Homo sapiens: one gene and its partner. The protein of the gene in region 1 interacts with the protein of each later gene in a pairwise test. Each region holds a gene or a part of one and is shown in the gene's direction. Other genes may lie near its edges. The genes, in order: NPTX2 and FZD6.

Region 1 (11,382 bases):
GTTTACCTATGTAACAAACCTGCACATCTGGCACATGTATATCAGAACTTAAAGTTAAAATTTAAAAAGTTAATGTGTTAAAAACTTAACCCCCAAAGCAACAGTTTTGGGAGGTGGGACCAAGTATGGATTAACTGGGTCATGAGGAGGGAGCCCTCATGAATGGACTATTGCAATCATCTTAGGAGTGGGTCAATTATCACTAGAGTGGGTGGTTATAAAAGCAAGCCCAGCCCTTGGTAGTTCTCAGATATATGCACTTGCTTCTGCCCTCCACCTTTCCACTATGGACCAGATACCAGCACCATGCTCTTGGACTTGCCAGCCTCCAGAACTATGAGCCAAATAAACTTCTTTTATTTACAAGTTACTGAGCCTGTGGTATTCTGTCATAGAAGCAGAAAATGAACTAAGACAGAATCATTAATATAACTTAAAAACTTCAAACTGTTAAGGTAGAGAGTACAGTGAGAGAAAGGAGAGAGCTATGGACAGTTCAACTTTGAATATGTGTGTTGAGGAGGCAGGTAATGAAAGAAGGTCCAGAAAAGAAGAAAGAAAGGAAAAAATGTTCAGAAATCAAAGAAGAAAACCAGAAGAATACAATATCATAGAAACCAATGTTGGAAAATTCTAATAAAAAAGACTTAGCCAACAGTGTTCAATGCTGATGAGTTCCAGGAGAATGACAGAAAAGGGGACATTGAAATTAATGGCAAATTATTGATTTTTAAGAAAGCAGTTATTGAAGAAGAAACCAAGCATTCTAATAGGTTAATGAGTATGTTAGGGAGTGATACAGAGAAAAGAGCCCTTACTGGAAACCAGAGGGCCTGAGTTCCAGCATGGCCCTGCTGTTAAGTAGCCCTATGATCTTTTTAGCATGGTTTTGAACTTATTTTGTGGGGAGGGGAAGTCTTTACTTTAACATAATTTTAATTGACATGTAATAATTGTACATATCTATAGGACACAGAGTGATATTTCAATGCATGCATACAATGTATAATGATCAAATCAGGGTAATTAGCATATCAATCACCTCAAACATTTATCATTTCTTTGTGTTGGGTACATTCAAAATCCTCTCTTCTAGCTATTTGAGAATATATAATAAACTATTGTTAGCTATACTCACCCTACAGTGCTGTAGAACACCAGAACCTAGTCTTCCTATCTAGCTGCCATATGACATTTTAACCTTTCTCAAACTGTTTCCTAGTCTTCAAAATTCTATAAAATATCTTCAAACTCTCACTTTCAAAGATTCATACAAGCTACCTGTGTGCCTGAATCATACAGAGATATTGAGCCACATGTCTTTATCAGAAATAGGCCAATTTCACCACTTGTAAGTTATGTGAAAGTGGGGCACTTTCTTGGTGTTTCCTAATATAGAGAAATTGAGACTACATTCATAGAAGATTTTCTCAAAGCAAACTAAGTTGATGATGTTCCTTCCTTCAGCCTCCTCCCACTCCCAGTCTATTATCCCTTACTTTTAAAAACTGAGGTAAGACATTATCCCTGGTATATCCGGTGACTCGTTCTATTGCTTGAAATCAGAGGATGCCACCAAAAGCCTTTTTTGGTTTGTTGAAATCAGTTGAGTAATATGAACAACCAATTCCCCTAAATCACGGCTCTCTAGCTAAATGTGATAATATACTTGTACAGGGACACCACTTCCTGAAACTCAGTGTCTCATCTCACATGCTCCCAAAATTTAGCCAGAAATATGTTATTCAAGAAGAACACAGATGCACTGAAGCAAGAACATTTTGCTTTATCTGAGGGGCTTATATCTATTTGGGTCCCGTAGCAACACAAATTCAGAATCACTGAGATGTTAAATATTACAAATTTTTTAGTTGGGTCCAGGCACATAGTCTGGTGATATATCCCAAGTGTAGGTGTGAAACAGTTCACTTTGACTGAATCCTCTGATTAAAGCTCAATAATACCATGCTTTATCTTTTTTTTAAAAAAAAAAAAACCCACAAAGTAGTATATCTTTATCTTGCTGAGACACCAGTATATTTTCCTGAAGTTTTCATCCCTTGTCTTTCCTCTTGGGAGGCTGGCCTGTTCTTTCTTAAGTATTCTTGCCTTATTTAACTCTAAAGAATATTGCAGAAAGGGAAGAATTTTTTTCAACTTTGTTTTTAAAGGGACTTACATAATACAGGTCTAAATTCAGTGGAGAAAAGGGGAAGAAAAGGACAATTATCATCTATTGTGCACTGGCTATATGCCAAACATGTTCACTTACATTATCTCACTCAAGCCTAACAATATTTTGTAGTAAATTTAGCTTTGATTTTAGAGATGAGAAAACTGAGGCTGGGAGAGGTTAAATCATTCTCTCAAGGTAAAGTGGCAAGTCATAAAACTGGGACTGAAACTAAAGCTGTCTGACTCCAAAGCTCAAGCTCTTTCCACACTACCATGCAGTTCAATCTAGTGGGGAAAAAAATCCACTCTTGAAAGCGTCTTAGCATTTTAAGCATAAATGTGTGTTAGTAGGGATCCTCTGGAGCTTCCAAATTCTATTTTATCTGCACTGAACTTTACACACACACACACACACACACACACACACACGTCTATTTCCCCCTTCCAATTGAAATTCAGCACCGAGGACAGTTCCCGAATCATGTTTGCAGGAAGCTGTCCTTGGATTCTGTTAGAGCTCACACTCTCATTCTTGACTTCCCAAGTGGCACTGAGAAAGAGAGAAGGAAATGTAAGAAAGTATGAGATGGGATCCTCTCACACCATGGTGGAAATTAGCACATTTCCCAGAAGACCAAGATAAAAATGCATGTGAGAAGAACAAGAGAACCAAACAGATGGGGCAATAAAATGGAGGCGGAATGAGCTCATCAGGATTCCCAGCACACGGTTTAAGTCCATACTGGGCTCACAGCTGACCTGGGACCAGCCGACATAGTGAATGAGTGGGTGGTTACTATGCTGCAGCATCAGTTACACTAAGAGATTAGGTGGAGCTGATTCACTGCTGCAGATCTGCACGACTTTTCAAGTGGAGGAAAATCTGTGGGCCCTGGTCTCTGCCACTCACATAACCATCCTCATGGGTAGCATGAGTCATACATGCAGGATCTTTCAGGTAGACAAAGTTGTTGTGCTGTGAGTAAACCCAGTATGAGCTTTCGTGTTGTCGAAAGCAGGTTTTAACCACAACTACGGCGTCTCCGTGTATGAAGGTTTACCTGCTGTACTACAAAACGACCCTGCCTTTCCACATTCACCTTTGGCTACAGGTGGTTAATAACACACACAGAAAAAACAAGTTTCTGAAACGTTCCTCACACCAACAGTGATTCCTTCTTTTTCAAACTATCATGCTCTTGAGTACAGCCAAAGCACCTTTAGACAGTTGCGTCTAATCCCCTTATCTTTTTAAAATTATTATTATTATTTTGAGATGGAGTCACGCTCTGTCACCAGGCTGGAGTGCAGTGGCATGATCTTGGCTCACTGCAACCTCTGCCTCCTGGGTTCAAGCGATTCTCCTGCCTCAGCCTCCCAAGTAGCTGGGACTACAGGCGGGCGCCACCACACCCAGCTAAATTTTGTATTTTTAGTAGAGACGGGGTTTCACCATGTTGGCCAGGATGGTCTCGATCTCTTGACCTTGTGATCTGCCTGCCTCGGGCTCCCAAAGTGCTGGGATTACAGGTGTGAACCACCGTGCCCAACCCCCGCCCCTCCCTTATCTTATATGCAAGAAAACTGAAGTCCAGAGGAGAAATGACTTGCCCCAAACCACTTAGCTAGTGACAGAGTTAGAATTAGCACTAGATCCCTCATTCCTAAGCCAGCAGGCTTTTCATTGCACCAGGAAGATAAAATAAAACTGTAAATAGCATGTACTCTGTTAACTAAGCCTCTAATTATACTGCCTCCAAAGAAAATAACATTTCAAATGTCTGGGTCTTTCCATTTGAGCTTTGGCAATTTCACTGATCACTTCTCATACTGGAATCTCTTTTAAGACGTTTAGGAGTAATTATATTGGGATATATGCTATTTTTACTCTTGTACACTGCTTTCTTTGTTCAGGAGGAAATTAGAATTCTGGAAAGATACTTGATTTTGTTTAATTATTAAAGGAACAAGCTTCTACTTCAAGTAGTTGCAAATATGAATGTATCAGTCTGTGTGTCAAGAAAGGATATATGGAACAATACAGGAACGATAATACTCTATTGTCACATCCAATTAAGGGCCACCTAGGTCTACAAGTAAAGAGGAACATCAAAGCTATGAGTGAAAATGGAAAAGTCACATCGTTATCTGAATAATTTTGAAAACGTCTGGATTTGGTGCCTTATGAATCATCTGAAATGTAACAAGGCATAAAGTGCTTTGCAACCCTGTTGCCTTCATTATTGTAATTTGTGCATATGTAGGTTTATTTGAACTTTTTCGAGTTTTCATCCAGCTGAAAAAGGATGTAGGAAGAATGAGTCCAGTCAAGGTCATACTTAACAAGGTGAAACTGACACCTCCTGGGGATGCAGGCTAACAGAAACATGAGCCCATTACTCACCCCAAATCTCCCATCCATACCTTTTTCTGCTAATGAATATTCTTACCTGAACCATCATTACTTCCATTGTCCTCTGCTTTGGATACCTTGCAGACCAGGTTCCTGTCTCTCATTTTTATCCACGAAGAGATTTTCAAGAATAGAACTTTTCTTATAATTTAGCAATAATGTCCTTGAAAACCCCACAACTATTTACATAATAGAAGCTATTGTTTGAAGTGCAAAGCAGGTCAGAATTTGGTTTCTAGAGATTAATCACTGCAGTCTAGTTTATATTATCATAATAATTTCATTTATTTTGGTACAATTTGCTTTCAGAATCAACCTCGGCTTCTGCGCACAAGTGACAAATCCATTTGTTTGTGGTATAATGGATAACGTGATTAATGACCTTGCAACAGGATTTCTTAAAAACATAGAGAGGAAAAGAAATAAAGATTTCCATTTATAAATGTGCAGTAAACCAGCTCAGTCTGTAGCTGTGCACCAAAATCCCTCTGAACTTGTTTTAAGCCACAGATTTGGAGAGATTCTGAAACAAATTTGCTCCTGACTTTTGGGGGTTTCTGCTCATATCTGCTGTCTCCAAGAAGCTGAGGGCAGTGGCCTCACTTCGAGGAAGTGGTGACACTGCGGGCCCTCCTGGTTACAAGGACCGGGCACTGTTGGACCACGTGGCTCCATCATGATGACTCCAGTTAGATGTCACCCCGCCCCTGAGCTCAGGTCTTGCTGAATAAGGTCACCGCCCAGGGGGCAGTCGATGAACACGCGCGCGAGGGCTCTGCGAGTGGCCTCGTGACTTTGTCCCTAACTCCGGGTGTCCCCTCCTTCCCATCAGCGTCCGGCGCCTGGTCCTGGTCCCGGTCCCCGAGGCCCCCGGGATTCTTCCCGAGCGTTTTCCGAGTTGGCGCGGGGGGTGGAGGCGGGGCCATGGAGCGCGTCCCGGGGACCGTTGCATCCGGAGGCGGCCGTCGTGCGGCTCCTTCCCGCCTCGAGAGTGAGGTGGCCGGGCCTTGACGAGAAGGCCCACGCCTGCCGCGGGGGTGGCTCGCGATGGCAGTCGGGGTTCGAGTCCCGCCTGGGGGGCTGCTCCTGCTGGAGAAAACGCCTCCCTGAGGGCGGCGGCAAACGCGCAGCGAGGCCCCGTGCCGCGCCAGAAGCCACCCTGAGAAAGGGGCACCGGGACACCGAGGGGTTCCCACTTTCTCCTCAGCCTGTGACGCCCGCGTCCTCGGGTGGGTTCGAGGGGCGCCTGGGCACGGCCAGCCGAGGCTCTCGAGAGCCCCAGTGTCGTTTTCCACCTCAGGCCTCCTTTCCTGAGGCAGAGCCCGGGACCTCGCGCTCTCGCCTCAGGCTCCGGCCCACGCTCCCGCCCGGCCGCCAGGCGCGCAACGGAAAGCGCCCCCGCCCCGCCCCGCTCCGCCCACTGCGTGACGCGCACCCGGCCGAGCCAATCAGAGCTCGTGGCGCGCGCCCCACACGCCGGCCCCCTCCGCCCCTCAGCTTAAGAAAGGGCGCGCGGACCCGGCAGGCCAGAGTGCCGAGCAGCGCGGTGGGTGCGGCTGTGAGACGGCAGGAGACTTCTGCCCCGCGGTGCACGCGACCCTCGAGACGACAGCGCGGCTACTGCCAGCAGCGAAGGCGCCTCCCGCGGAGCGCCCCGACGGCGCCCGCTCGCCCATGCCGAGCTGAGCGCGGCAGCGGCGGCGGGATGCTGGCGCTGCTGGCCGCCAGCGTGGCGCTCGCCGTGGCCGCTGGGGCCCAGGACAGCCCGGCGCCCGGTAGCCGCTTCGTGTGCACGGCACTGCCCCCAGAGGCGGTGCACGCCGGCTGCCCGCTGCCCGCGATGCCCATGCAGGGCGGCGCGCAGAGTCCCGAGGAGGAGCTGAGGGCCGCGGTGCTGCAGCTGCGCGAGACCGTCGTGCAGCAGAAGGAGACGCTGGGCGCGCAGCGCGAGGCCATCCGCGAGCTCACGGGCAAGCTAGCGCGCTGCGAGGGGCTGGCGGGCGGCAAGGCGCGCGGCGCGGGGGCCACGGGCAAGGACACTATGGGCGACCTGCCGCGGGACCCCGGCCACGTCGTGGAGCAGCTCAGCCGCTCGCTGCAGACCCTCAAGGACCGCCTGGAGAGCCTCGAGGTAGCGGCCCGCGGGGAGCGCGGGGGACCTGGAATGGGGACGCTCCCGAGTCGGGGGCGGAAGACTCGGGAGGATGGGGAAAGGGGGCCTGGCCCTGGGGAGGGTGTGATCGTCCGTGGGGGTGAGCTGGACTTGAGGGTGAAAGGCGGGGATCTAGATCCTGCTCGGGAACTCCCCTGCGTGGTATCCCTTCCCACACCGCTGCTCTTGCTGGAAGGAAACGTTTAAATTCCACCCCCGCGCGTCGGGACTGCCAGCGGGATCCGCCGAGCACTTCCCGAGGTCCGGGCTAGCGAACCCAGACGGCCAAGCCGCGGGCGCCAAATACCCGGGGACGCGGTAGCCTCTATCCTCTTGCAAATCTCCAAATCTCCGCGAGCCGGGATGCGCTCCCGCAGGCCGTGCGGGTTGCTGCGAGGCTGCCGCGGGAGGTCAGCTGCCCCGGGCATGTGGTGTTTCTTTCTTTAAATCAGGTCAGGCTGAGCTAGAGGGGGCGGAAGTCTGGGGGCGGAGGTCGCAGGGAGGCGAGCGCAGGGGGTCACCGGCGACCCCAGAGCGCGCATTAGAGGGGCAACCTCTGGTTAACTTCAAAGACTCCCGTGTCTGCAAGTTGGACCATTTTAAGGTGCTCTTCCGGATTGCTTCAGGGGAAGGGACCTCATTCCCTTCTCTCTCTCTCTCTCCCCCCCTCCCCCCCTCCCCCTCCGTCCCCCCCCCCCGCCCCCCGCTCCCGCCTCCGTCTCATCTCTATCTCTGAAAATGCGTGCAGTTTGGAACTTTGAGAGAAAAATCTTCAATTATTTTTCATCTTTAGGCTCCACCCTTTTTAAGAAGTGTGGACACTGCTGTTAATAGCCTTTGTGAAAATACTTCTCAGCAAAACTAGGTTTAAATTACAGGTGGTAATTATTGCAAAAATGACTCTAGGGTTTCTTTTGGCGTGAGGGCTGAATACAGTATTTCCAGCATCTGTATATCCCCTGATTCATTGTGATTGCTAACAGCTAACATTTCTGGAGCACTAAATATGAGTCAGGCACATCATTTAATTTTTTAATCCTTGGAACAATGAATGGCATGAGGCAGGTCCCATTATGTGCATTTCACAATTTGGAACACTTTGTGGAGAAAGGTAAATAGCTTGCCATGAACTCATGGGTAGGCAGCCTGCCACAGCCTCCAGAACCACATGATGGTAGGGGAGAAAGAGAAATAGGAAGTGAGGATTTAGAAACAGCATTAAAAACAAAGATTGCTGGAGTTCAGAATAGCAACGTTTTAGATCTGTCATTTTCCAGAAACATCTCTGCATGCATAGTTATTTACCTTGGTGCCAGACCGGAACTTGGGGGCTGTTTTCATTTCTAGGTGAAAGCTCCTTGGCTTTGTGTAACCATCGATTTACTCTTAAAAAAGAAAAAAAATCCTGGAGCTGAGTTTTGGTCTCTACCCAACATAGAATTCTAGGCGTTGGTTAGAATATTGACTTTTTAGTAAGAGGAGAAAAACGGCTTTTTGAGAAGGGAAAATTAGATTCACAAGTTTCAAATATTGCAGCAAAGTAATTCTTATCTGACTTTGAAATCTTTTCCATACCAAAAAAGCATCAGTGAGATGCTCCCCTGCCTGCCAGTGGCAAGATTCAGGGCTTGCGTTTTGGAAGCTTCTCCCTGTGTGGTCGGGCCATCACAGCCACATTTCACAATTTCTTTTTAACTCTTTCTGTGCCCCTCCCTCCTCCCCGGTGGCTGAAAGCACCAGCTCAGAGCAAACGTGTCCAATGCTGGGCTGCCCGGCGACTTCCGCGAGGTGCTCCAGCAGCGGCTGGGGGAGCTGGAGAGGCAGCTTCTGCGCAAGGTGGCAGAGCTGGAGGACGAGAAGTCCCTGCTGCACAATGAGACCTCGGCTCACCGGCAGAAGACCGAGAGCACCCTGAACGCGCTGCTGCAGAGGGTCACCGAGCTGGAGCGAGGTGTGTGCCTGGCCTGTTTCTCTGTCTGGCAGTGGCCTGATTTTCACCACTTGTGGTCAGACATGCGATTCTGGTTGATGGACAGCAGGGATTGTGACACCACATGGGCCTGGTTCCCGAGTGTGTGAGCAAATAATAAAGGCGACTGAACAAGGTCATCTCAGGAATGAGCTGCCAGCCCCACTGGCATTATCCAGGGAAAAGTGAAAGTGTCCAGGACCAGCTTCGATAAGCAACCACACGGGCGTTTCAGTCCTTTGTTAACTAGTCCTGGCAGCGGATTCTGTGTATCTTTCTCTTCTCTGCTCACACTGTGGTGAGTAAGTTTCTCCCACAGGAGACAGAGTGGGAGGGATCAGGGGATAATTCAGATTGCGTCATCAACCCCCAAACCACTGGGTGGCTTGGGTTTGAAGTTGTAGGTTTGCCCGTAGTGGGTGTTTATAAGACTGGAATTTTCCCAGATGCACTAAGCTGATGAAGCCACTTCCCCATGACTCCGTTTCATGCATTGATAGGAGGATGCCCAATAGCAGAACATCCAATGACTTTGGCCGAGGTGGGGCAGATGGAGAAGGGGCTGGTGTTACTGTTCCATTTTACAGCCAGCATCCACAAGCCACAGGTCTCTTTCATCCCTTTCCTAGTCTCTTCCTACAGAAAAACCTATCCTTTCTTCCTGGCCCTTCTCAGAAAAAGGTGAGTATGGCTTACCTGTTAGATCTGTTAGATTCTTGAGTTTCCAAAAAATCTTCCTTTCTGTCTCCCCTCTGTTGCTGGGTGGCCTCAGGAGCCATCCCTGAAGGTAAAGCAGCCGTTGCTGTGGCCCTCCTCCCATGACAGGAGGAGGGAACGTCTAGGCACAGGTGAGCGTGGCTCCGTGGACCCAGCCTGAGCCACAGTGGATCCTCGGGACACCCAGGGCTATGGAGTTGGCACACTAAAGGTAGTTTGCCTCTCGAAAGGGGAACTGTGGAACGAGAGGAGGGCTCCATGAGAGACCTTGGTGGCTGTAAACCTCCCTCTGCACAGTGGCCAAGTTGCCATGAGGAGGTGGGTAAATAGCAGAATAGTGAGCCAGAGCTTCAGTCATGCCAGGCGGGAGCTCAGACTCCTGGTATGCCCGTTTCATAGATGAGAAAAAGACTCCGTTCTCAGTGGGACATGTATCTTTTGGGGAGGGGGCCCAAAGTGGGTCCTGGGCCACTAGCTGGCAAACAGTGACAGTCACATCAACCTGCACCTCCTCCTTCTCTTTCTCTCACTCAAGGCCAATGTCATTTCACTGGGCTTACTCCTAAGGTAAGCCATCATCATGGCTTTGGCCACCCAGAAGCTGCCACTTTGTGACTGTCCCTTTCATCCCCAGCCTGTCCATTACCAGCCAGAAAGAAACAGTCAGGACTCAGACCCCGCCAGCCTGACTCCTGACCCTTTAGTTTCCCAGCAAGCCCTCAAAGCTCATCTGGCACAGAGGGGAAGCTCACCTCTACGAGGGCAAAGACGCTGCTGGCCATTTATGCACCCCAGAGAGGCAGCCCAGCCTCTCTTCATCCCACCGTGGGAACTCTAGAATCCTTCTGTGAGCTCCACCAACTCAGCTCTGGGATGTGCTTTAAGGAAAGTGATCATTTGCAGACCAGTTTGTCTTCTGGGCAATTCTGAGTGTCCTGTTTGTGACAATTGTAGAGAGATGAGTAAACGCCCAGCCCTCCACATGTACTATGATTGGAAACGATGCCAAGTTTCTTAGACACATCCAGCTGAACCCAGAGTAGCTAGACCTTAACCTCACTACAGGCAGGGGGCCTTGGTGGGGGAACTCTGGCCTTTGGTCTGTCAGCCTCCACCCCTTAGGGACCAGATGCTTGGCTGTGAGTTCCACACTTGGCATTCTGTAATCCCTGACATGACCTTGCAAGGTAGGGATTAGTTCAGACGAGGGACTCAAGTCAGAGAACTAAAGTGATGCCTGCATTCACATTGCCAGCAGATTGCAGAGCTGGGAGTGAAGTTGGTGGGGCCCCAGAGGAGTGATGGAGGCTGCAGCCTGGAGCGGTGTGTGGGCCCCAGCCCTGCTGCGTCGGAGGCTCCTTGGAGCCCCCAGCAAGCGCCTGACCCCTGGCATATGGATGCCCCTGCCACCCGGGGCCCAGGGTTGCTTGCTTTTCTTTGCTGCAAGACCTGTTCCTCTGCAAGGGCCTCCAGAGTCCAGGCCAGCTGTCCAGGCACTGCCCAGCTCAGTGTTGAAATAAATGTTGCTGCTGAGAAAACCAAAGCTGCCTCTCTTCCAGCCCCAGGCTGCCCACCCCCTGCTGAGCCTCTCCGCCACCTGCAGTGTCTGATTTATTGGTCAGGCCTTTTAATTCCTTAATTGGTTTTAACCAAGTTTCCTCCAAACCGCCAAGCTGTTTTATTTAAATAAAAGACACTGGCTCTCAGGGTACAGGCCCCCTCCTCTGCCCCTCGGCTCTTCCAGCTCTAATTAAACCTATCTGTTGTCACCAAGCTAACAATATTACCCACACGGAGTCGTATCAGATTGGCAAGGCTGCCCTCCCGCAAGTATAGCAGCCATTTCTCTTTATTAGACAATGATGCCTTCATTAAGGACATGGTCATTTGCCACTTGAAGATTAAGTGTGAGTGGCTAAGTGTCGTGGAAAGAGGGACTTCCGGCCCCTGGCCTGT
Region 2 (11,265 bases), on another chromosome or scaffold:
GACATTTATGCAGCCAAAACACACATGAAAAAATGCTCACCATCACTGGCCATCAGAGAAATGCAAATCAAAACCACAATGAGATACCATCTCACACCAGTTAGAATGGCAACCATAAAAAGTCAGGAAACAACAGGTGCTGGAGAGGATGTGGAGAAATAGGAACACTTTTACACTGTTGGTGGGACTGTAAAGTAGTTCAACCCTTGTGGAAGTCAGTGTGGTGATTCCTCAGGGATCTAGAACTAGAAATACCATTTGACCCAGCCATCCCATTACTGGGTATATACCCAAAGGATTATAAATCATGCTGCTATAAAGACACATGCACACGTATGTTTATTGCGGCACTATTCACAATAGCAAAGACTTGGAACCAACCCAAATGTCCAACAATGATAGACTGGATTAAGAAAATGTGGCACATATACACCATGGAATACTATGCAGCCATAAAAAATGATGAGTTCATGTCCTTTGTAGGGACATGGATGAAATTGGAAATCATCATTCTCAGTAAACTATCACAAGAACAAAAAACCAAACACTGCATATTCTCACTCATAGGTGGGAATTGAACAATGAGAACACATGGACACAGGAAGGGGAACATCACACTCTGGGGACTGTTGTGGGGTGGGGGGAGGGGGGAGGGATAGCTTTAGGAGATATACCTAATGCTAAATGACGAGTTAATGGGTGCAGCACACCAGCATGACACATGTATACATATGTAACTAACCTGCACATTGTGCACATGTACCCTAAAACTTAAAGTATCAAAAAAAAAAAAATCAGAGTTATTAGCAGCCCATGAACCACAATTGGTATAAAGTTACTTCTGCACATCAAAGAAAATTAATTTAGCTATTGTCTAAATTACTAAATTGGGGCAAAAAGCCCTTTTCTAGATGCTACAAGCTTTATAAAGGGAAAATACTATTTCTAATATTCGACTTAACATGGCTGCTTTGGTTAAAAAAAGGATAACATATTAAATATTTAAAATGACCAGATGGTAGGTTTGAATCCACTGAAAACAAACCCAGCAGGGCAAACTCACAGGCACAAAATGTAACTCAAAGCATTAATAGAGCTGAGGCTGTTTTTCTTTAGCATTATGAATCTCTTATTTGCAATGACTATACCAGAGCTCCAAAGAGGCAGTCTTATACATCAAACTGTCATTAAAATATGTGGCTCTTTCCTGCAGTGTCATGTTACTACTGCACTGAAAATTTTATTTTTCCAGTAACACTGGAGGTAGTAATTAGAAGGTCTATTATTTCTGGCCAACCATAATGGATACAACCATAATGGACACAACCCAAAGGTTAATTGCTGTGCTACAAACACTGCAGCAATTAGCTTTCAGAGTAGGGAGTGACAGGGAATGTATTTCAAGTGAAAGTTAGTTTTTAAATAGAAACTATCCTCTACGTCATGCGCATAAACTTCCCTAAATTAAGTCAGTGCATGATCAAATTCACAATGTTACATGGAGGGAGTGAAGCCATGATAGAGCTTTCAAGGGTTAGGGAAAGAAGTATTAGGGAGAGAACTTCATGAGGGAAGGGGTTCATACCACTGGAAGTTCTAACTGCTTCCTCCCAAGTTCCTCTTTGCTTCTGTACTCTTCTATGCCTCTGCTCAGCCCAGCCTCCTCCAGCTGGGGTCCCTCTACTGCTGTTTGTTCCTCAAACTGCTAATGTCTCAGCATCAGGTCAGTGGCCACAAGCCGGCCTATCCCCCAGTATGTGTACAGGGCCCAGGCAGGAGTACAAAGGAGGACACCATGCTATATGTCTACATAGCTAAAATTCATATATCAAACTAACAAACTGCTACTTGAAATATGTTCTATCCTCCTACCTTGAAAAAATGTACCTTTATAAAGACAGAAATGTTTTTAATGTGTAAAGCTATGTTTTAATGAGTAGGCAAAATATCAAAAGTAGATAAATTCAATTATTATGGCACGTGTTTGCATAGTCCGGTGATAGGCTGGAGATGTTTGGGTAAGTAATTAAATAAAAACTTACACAGTTTACAAGTTACATATTTACCCCTGTGAAATTTACTTTCTTCCCTTCATTTTAGCAAAATCCCTTAATTATATTGTCATAATAAAAATTTTCATATAGTCAGTCTTCTATGAATACTAATGCCAAATTACATAACTTTTCTGAATTATTGCAGCTCTTGGGATTTTTCAACTCGATTTTAACTTGGAGAAACTTTGCTCTGCTAAGGCAGTAGCAACTGGAATTATCAATAAAATTCTTAAAGTCATACCTATTTTTAAAAATGAGAAATTAAGGTTTGTAGTGTGGCATGTAAGGAGCTTAGCTGTTACTCTGTCCTGACAAAAAGTAGAAAGTTGAACAAACTGAAAATCAACAACTCTTCCTAGATCTAGCAGAGAAGTAAGGACACAGAGCAAGCCACTGCCCCCAAAGTTGGAGAGACAAACAGGCAGATACACAGAATCACAATTTACTAGAGCAGAAACCCGCCGGCAGAAACCTCCAGGGGCATGAGTACAGGGTAGGAAGACCAGAACTGTAACTGATGAATTGCTAGAGGCTCAGGGTGGTCAAGACTAAGAATTTAAAACTCCAGGGGGTCAGCTGGGCACGGTGGCTCACGCCTGTAATCCCAGCACTTTGGGAGGCCTAGGCAGGGAGATCACGAGGTCAGGAGACAGAGACCATCCTGGCCAATACGGTGAAACCCCGTCTCTACTAAAAATACAAAAATTAGCTGGGCATGGTGGTGTGCACCTATAATCCCAGCTACTCGGGAGGGTGAGGTGGGAGAACCATTTGAACCCAGGAGGCGGAGGTTGCAGTGAGCCAAGATCACGCCACTGCACTCCAGCCTGGCAACAGAGTGAGACACACACACACACAAACACACACACACACACACACACACACACACACACAAAGGGGGAGGGGGCCTAGTCTTTGGAGGGCACACTCACACTTTTGTAAGTTTTACCTCCAGGAGTTCTTCCAGGTTCTCTCAGTGAAAATCAAAGAAAAATCACCTCCTACATCCAACAGGGAGAGGTGAAAAGAACCATTTTGAAATATGTCAAAATATTCTGTTCTTTTTAACAAGGCCTGCCCTCAAGAGAAACTACCAGAGCCTAACCTATTACAGTTTTAGCAGAGCCTAACCAAGCTGATAGATGGGAAATATCCAACCCCAGCCCCCTCTAGACATCCTGTCCCACCCAAGAAGGGGGATAAAAACTAAGAAGCACTTGTGAAGTTTCCAGCCTAGGGACACAAGCTCACTAAGACTGAAATCTAATCATAGGTCTATAGAATGTTTCCCCTCCTCCCACATCTTAACACCGCATCACTGAAGCCCATTTACTCCAGTGCCTTTCACCCAGTGCATCATGTCCAGCTTTCAACTAAAAATTACAAGGCACACTACAGAGCAAAAAACACAGTTTGAAGAGGCAAAGCAATCATCAGAACTAGACTCACATACGGCAGAGATGTTGGAATTATCAGACCAGGAACTTCAAATAACTGTGATTAATATACTAAGGGTTGTAAAGGTAAACGTAGACAACTTGAAAGAACAGACGGTTAATGTAAGCAGAAATGAAAATTTTAAGGAAGAATAAGAATTGCTAGAGATATAAAATTCTATAACAGAAATGAAGCATGCCTTTGATGGATTCATTAATAGACTGGACATGGTTGAGAAAAGAATCTCTGAGTTTGAGGATATGTCAATGGAAACTTCCAAAATTGAAAAATAAAGAGAAAAAGGACTTAAAAAAAAGAAACAATATCCAAGAACTGTGAAACAACTACAAAAGTATAACATATGTGTAACAGGAATACCAGGAGAAGAATTAGAGAAAGGAACAGAAGAAATATTTGAAGCAATAGTGACTGAAAATTTCCCCAAATTAATGTCAGTCACCAACAATGTTAGACCAACTCTCTAAAATCTCTTCCAGAAGATAGAAGCAGGGGGAATACTTCCTAGCAGCATTGCCCTAATACCAAAACCAGACAAAAACATTACTAGCAAAGAAAACTATAAACCAATATATCTCTTGAACAAAGATGTAAAAATCCTCAACAAAATATTAGCTAGTAGAATCCAGCAATGCATAAAAAGAATTGTACAGCATAACCAAGATTTATCCCAGGTATGCAAGGCTGGTCCAATATTTGAAAATTCATTCATGTAATCTACCATACCAATAGACTAAAGAAGAAAAATCACATGACCACATCAATAGATGCAGAAAATGCATTTGACAAAATCCAGCACATTTTCATCATAAAAACTTTCAGCAAACTAGGGACAGAGGGGGAACTTTCTCACTTGCTAAAGAACATCTACAAAAACCCTAAGGTAACAATATACTTAATGATGAGGAGCTTACCTATAGAGGAACAAAAATAAAGAATGACATCCAACTTCTCAGAAACCACGTAGACAAGAAGAGAGGTGGAGTAAAAGTGTTCAGAGAAAAAAACTACCAACCTATAATTCTGTACCTTGCAAAATTAGCCTTTAAAAGTAAAAGTCTGTTTCTTCTACTTTTGGTCACCACTGTCCCCTAGCATCAGCCCAGAGGAACAATGCAAAGAGAAAGAGAAGGAAAATGAGGAAAACCGTCAGATAGTTCCATATTTACAGATGAAGAAACTAAAGAGGATCTGAATAATTTGCTCAAGTTCACACAGCAAGTAAATGCTGGAGCTAGGTTTTGAACCCAGGGATTTTGAACTCCAAAGTTTGTGTTCTTAATCTCGTACCATTGGGATGAAATTGTACAGTGAAAGACAAGCGATGATATAGATGATTGCCTAAGTATTCCAAATCCATCCTGACAAAAAAAAAATCATTCTAGTTCATCACTGCTCACTATATAATTAAATACAATGAAAAATAAAACAGGCTTTATTTACTTCTGTATAAATCAACTTACTACAATTTTTCCTTCCAAATAATGGAACAAGTATTCACTTGAATTTCAAAACTATCGTTTTCAAATGATACTTTAAAAGTATCGTTTTCAAACGATATTTTAAAAAGTATCGTTTTTAAATGATACTTTTAGTGATACTTCACTGCCTGGTAGTCACTAGAGCCTGATCACAAAAAGATCTCATTAAGTTCGTAGAAACTGGAGAGAAATAGTCTTCCAATGTAGAAAATTAGAAATTTAGGGGAAAATATTCTTCCTACATAGAAATTTATTCTGCAATACATCAACTATCCAGCTCTTAATGATGTTAATATTTCTTCATCACTACCTGTCTCCCAACATCAGTAAGCTTTTGATAAAACTGGGGAGGAATTCCCCACTCCAAATTCGTCTTTCCCCACAGATTCCAAAACTCTTACTCTGGTTGTTCAGGGTTGTCCTTCTAGGTATGGAAATATGACATTCCTTTTCTGCAACAGGATGATTTATCTGACAAGAATAGCCTCCATCTACAAGTTACTTTGCATTTTTCAAAGTACTTCTACAAGTTCATTTGCTTCTCATACTATTCTGCCTGTTTCATAGGAGGGCCTTACAGGTTAGGTGTAAACACTTGTAACGAACTTGGCACTATTTGACTTACAGCCAGTGCTCAATTAACGTTAACCATCATTACAACTATTGTCATTCCTATATTGTGAGGAAACTATGCCCCTTAAAGATTAGGGTAATTTATCTAATATCTATGACAGAGTTGGTACCCCAAACTAGGTTGATTTCTACAGCAGTTCAACTTCCTATTAGGGTTTGTATCAATAAAACTGTGGGACCCGCCAGGGCTGGAATCCCACTGCTACCTGAGCATCCAGTTGGTGACCAGGCTCCCCGAATTAATAAAAGTATTTGTTGTTGTTTTTATAGCAGTTGTCCAGGAAGTATCTCCTTTCGAACTCAAGTCACTTGGGCAATTGGCTTTACAAAGCAAATTGGCTCCGTTTAAGGATTCTTGACTCCTGAAATCCGCAAGGAAGTGGGTTCTTTTAGAGCCAGCGCCAAGAGCTTCAAAAAATCCTTCTAAGGTGAACCCCTCCGGACCCGGATAGCGAGATGGGGCTCAGCCTTGCGCCTCGGGGGTCGTAACAGACGGCAAGGTGGAGGTGGCTTCCCGGCCCCGCAGCCGGACCTCGGCACCCCGAGCCCGTTCACCGGGGCCGGGTCCTGGCGGGCCGCGGAGTGAGGCCGGGCGGCGCAGCGCAGGCGGTGCCCGGGCGCAGGGCCAGTCCCGCCGCCGCCGCCGCCGCCGCCGCCGCCGCCGCCGCGAGCCCGGACCTGCCCGCCCGACCTGGCGGCGCAGTCTCGCGGGATCGCTCAGCTCTCGCTCCCCGTGCGGCTCTCGAGGCAGCTCCAGTCCCGGACGCAACCCCGGAGCCGTCTCAGGTCCCTGGGGGGAACGGTGGGTTAGACGGGGACGGGAAGGGACAGCGGCCTTCGACCGCCCCCCGAGGTGAGGCTTCCACGGCTGGGACTGGGCAGGGGCCGGGCGGGTGCCGGGGGAAGCGGGGAGGGCCTCGAGGGGCGAGGGGCCGCGGCTGGGATGAGGCGCGCCGGGAGCCGCAGGTGCTGGGGAGGCAACGGCGGGACGGCCCGCACCTGAGTTTCCTCGGAAGCGGGAACCGGCTCTGAAAGGCGATGCCGGGGCCCCGCGGCGCCGCGCAGGCCAGGAACGCTGCTGTCTGGCTCTAGGCCTGGGGCAGGTTCCCGGGTGTGGGGCGCTGGCGGACCGGGCATCAGTGTGTGTTGGGGCGCGGGTAATTCGTAATCCGGGGCCTACAGCCTTCCTCCCGCAAGGGGACTGCCTTCGCCCTTCCCCCGGGACAGATTTGCGCACTTTCCTTTCGACGGCAGCACTACACCCTCCTAGCCAGTGAAAACTGCAATGTTGCTCCTCCACTGGAGGAATCCTAAAAGTCTCCCTCTAGTTGGCCTTACGAAAATCGAGAAAACTACATACCCAGAAGACTGCCACAAAAACTGACTCTTCAGAGTCTTTTACAAGTTTAAGAACTCTTTGGGTCTTAAGGAATTTCCCAGGGCCTTAGTTTTCTTGTACTTAATAAGCTTTCCAACAGGGGCCCTTAGATTGTATGCTTATATTAATCCTTTATAATTTACTCCGAATCACCAGCTTTCCTTTTTTCCTCCATCTTACTCTTGCCATTCCCTCTTTTTAACCCTGTCTTCCATACAGCACCAACCTCCTAGCATCGGTTTCCTAGAGGTGCAGCTTCCTTAGCAAATGATATATTCCATGCTAAGGCAGGTGGAAGAGTATCTCGTTAGGACAGAATTTTCCGTTGTTTTTCCAGTGTTTGTTACCTGGGGTGAAAATCTTAACTCTGCACTTTGACTCCACATTTGAGTTTATGACAAATGTTGCTGATACACCCTCCTTTTGTTTTTACAGTAATTGACCCAGGACTCATTTTCAGGAAAGCCTGAAAATGAGTAAAATAGTGAAATGAGGAATTTGAACATTTTATCTTTGGATGGGGATCTTCTGAGGATGCAAAGAGTGATTCATCCAAGCCATGTGGTAAAATCAGGAATTTGAAGAAAATGGAAATGTTTACATTTTTGTTGACGTGTATTTTTCTACCCCTCCTAAGAGGGCACAGTCTCTTCACCTGTGAACCAATTACTGTTCCCAGATGTATGAAAATGGCCTACAACATGACGTTTTTCCCTAATCTGATGGGTCATTATGACCAGAGTATTGCCGCGGTGGAAATGGAGGTGAGTAGTGCTTCATACGTTTATTGAATAGTAGTTTATGCTCTGTTCTAGAATAAACTAGTAAAAATAAGTCTATTTTTAAACAGAGCCGATTTCTTCAAGTTGTGTACAAGTTGTGTTTTGAAAAGTCCTTTTGAAAATTAAATCCCTCTACTGACTTATGTTTTGTGTACCTTTGCGGCCCTGTTTAGTAGATTCGTTTGAATAGGGTTCATTTTATATAATGAAGTATGGTTACACATGATTTCTAAATACCTTGTACCTAGAAAATATTTTGCTTTCCTGAATCAAGTATGATAGTTCTTCTAGAAATGCGAATTCTGAATATTTTTCTACTTCACTGAACATGTAATATTTATTGCCTGGACTAAAACTGAAGAAATTTACAAGTTTTTATAAGTAGTTGTAATATTCACTTGGTACAGTTTTTCTGAAATAAATAAATTATCAGAATATTTTGTTGCTGTAGACTGTATTTTAAGGCTATCACAAAGTCACTAAAAAGTGACTTTGTTTTCTAAGCATAGCACTTATATGTTCTTTATAAGATACTTGTTAAAAGAAACCACTTGGGAGGAGTACAGTGACACTAAAGATTGCCTTAGGTGCCTTAGTTACCTGTCTCTGGTTTAGAGATATGCAAATTACTAGGGAGTGTGAGAAGAAAGCTACCTGTACAGACAGGAACCTGCCTTCCCATACAGATTTGTTAGGTTGTTAAGTCTCCTGAAGGAAACTAGACACATGCATTGTTTTTGTAGTTTTTCTCCAGAAAAACAGAATAGTAAAGGCTTTTTTCCCTCAGATTGTTGCTAAGAGAGGAAATCCCTACAAATTTAATATATATACTATTTTTAAAATTGATTAGATTTGATTTTGCAGCTTTGAAAGTTTTCTATTGTTGTTCAGTTGAATAGTTGTCTGACTGCCTCATTGTGGACTCATGTCTGGAATAGGAAAGCTTATAAATACTAAGTAGATGTTATTTAAAAGGATAGTACAGATTATATTATTGTTATCTTTCAGTGGTTTTTTTCAAACTGATGCTAGATGTCCTTTTGAACTGAACAAATGATGCACTGAGACTTTCATGAATCAGAACCATTTTGATGGTTCAATCTGATTCAATATGAAGTATATAGTGAGAACACTGTGAAGCAATAATTACATCATTCATTCACTTTTTTGCTGATGATAATATGTTTTGTAGTGTTCATGTTTTAATAGTGTTCCTAAATTTTTTAAATCTAATTTCCTTTGTATGTGGTAACTACATACATTTTAAGGTTTTTGTTTTTTCTTTTAGAGATGGGGTCTTACTATGTTGCCCAGGCTGGTCTCAAACTCCTAGGCTCAAGTGATCCGTCCTGCCTCAGCATCCCAAAGTGCTAGGATTACAGGCGCGAGCTACTGCACCTGGCTGACCATTTTAAGTTTGAATGCTAACAGTGACCTTATAAATTCATATCACCTAGACTCAAGAGAGATGCATCCCTGCTATTAAATGCCTGTAATTATAAGATGGTAGCAACTAGCTTTGTTCTGCACGTCTTTTTAAAACCAAATTTTTTTTACTTTCAAAAAAATTACTTTTTAATTTACCTAGCTTCTTTCCCAAGTAGTTTTGTGCCTGGATATTATCAAGAAGGCTTTTTGTTCTTACCTCTTTTATATGATTGCTAATACTACCAATCTCTTCATTATATAATTTTCCACTTATAACTAACCTTTCTCATAGCCTTTACTAATGAAGTTTTTTTTTTTGCTATAAATCATACTTCAGTAAATTTAAGGATACAAAAGAAGAGAGCCATCAAGCAGTCACAATACCAGCATTAACCTAAGTCTATAGAAGAAAGGAAAGAGAAATGAAAAGGCAAAAATAATGTCACCCTGGCTCAGACTTTTAATCCCTATATGTAATTTCTCAGTGTATACTATTGTGTTTTTCCTACTGCCCCTTTCCTATTTATCCATATACAGTAGTATTCTCTTTTAGTTCCTGTATTTGAATGTCCAAAATCCTATAAGTTGAGAGTTGTAAGTGACCCTAAAGATCATATAGAGCTTCTTAACCTTTTTTATGACATTAACCCCTTCTCAAGATAAGAGAAGTTTTAATATTTAAATAAATAAAATGTGTAGGATTACAAAGAAAACAAATTATATTGAAATATAGCTCAGGTAAAGAACCCCCGAACCCTTCATTATACAGATGAAGAAACTGAAACCCAGAAAAGCTGCGATTTGTCCCTTTGAGCACTCTAATCTGATAGTCTTCTCTGTCTACATGGACCATAATGTCATCTTTAACTGGTTTTTTTTTAGGCCCTTGTCCTGATTGGATAAACAAGATAATATTTCTTATGATTTAGAATGCAATGTGTAAATTTCAGACTTTGCTACTTATTTGCAAACTTCATTTAGATAAAAATTAAACTGGGTGATTGTTTTACCTCTGTTTAGCTCTGTCTCTCTTTTTCCTTCTTACAAGTGCCTTGAATACAAAGTCTTGTTAGACCAAAAATAAAATCTCTGTGGCGCACACCTGTAGTCCCATCTACTCTGGAGGCTGAGGTGGGAGGATCACTTAAGCCCAAGAGTTGGAGGCTGCAGTGAGCTATGATCGTTCCACTGCACTCCAGTCTGGGCAACAGAGTGAGACTTCAACTCAACAAAACAAAATGAAAACAACAAAAACAAAGCAAAAGTTAACTCCCTAATCTTCAGTCTCTCTAGTGGTGCCACAATGATTTTATTATAATTCAAATTTGTGCAGTCCACTTTAGGGTTAAAATCCTTCATCATTTTCCCTAAAGCTGGGGAAAAAAAGACCTGGTTCTAGAGCACTCCAGGCCCTTCATGTGGGACCCTGGCTGCTTGTCCAGTCTCTCATCTTGTACCTTCCCACATTGCACACTCTGCTTCAGCCAACTGACCTATTTGGAGAATTCAAATCCATATTACTGTCCATCACCTCTGTATCTTTACACACACTCTATCCTCTGGTGAGCCGTCTGTCTACCTACCTTTCTTCACCTGCTCAATTCCTTCAGTTCTCAGTTAAAGCAATAACTGTTTTTAGCGAACCCTTCTTTCACCTTTCTCCTGAGCAAATTTAATCACCCCACTCTACACCCTTACAGTACTTATAATGTACAGTTGTTCTTATGCTATTTTACAGTGAATCTACATGTCTCTAGATTGAGAGTTTGTTGAAGGTAGGGATGGTGTTTTTTTTTCATCTGTATCCCTAATACTAAGTACAATGCCTCTGAGCATGGTAGAGGCTACATAAAAGCTAAATAAAGAAAAAGGTAGGATTTTATGTCCCAATAAGGTAGCAAAGGGAATTTTCCCTCCAAATCTTTACATTCCACTTCTATCATCTACAGTGTCCAAGTCAAAGACATACTAATATTTTTAGGTGGTTTACATATCATTCTTTTTCATTCTGTCTGAGCCTAGCTGTAATGAAATATATCAGTTGACATCCTCTA

The links.
Region 2: the proteins of NPTX2 (region 1) and FZD6 interact in binary tests that used the Homo sapiens proteins (3 or more experiments, as listed by UniProt).

The regions. Positions count from the first base shown.
Region 1 is NC_000007.14:98,611,169-98,622,550, forward strand, and holds the start of NPTX2 (neuronal pentraxin-2 precursor), read left to right. Parts: upstream 1-6,116; 5' UTR 6,117-6,293; coding exon 6,294-6,719; intron 6,720-8,474; coding exon 8,475-8,691; intron 8,692-11,382. UniProt on the Homo sapiens protein: Likely to play role in the modification of cellular properties that underlie long-term plasticity. Binds to agar matrix in a calcium-dependent manner.
Region 2 is NC_000008.11:103,292,520-103,303,784, forward strand, and holds the start of FZD6 (frizzled-6 isoform a precursor), read left to right. Parts: upstream 1-6,378; 5' UTR 6,379-6,476; intron 6,477-7,436; 5' UTR 7,437-7,588; coding exon 7,589-7,765; intron 7,766-11,265. UniProt on the Homo sapiens protein: Receptor for Wnt proteins.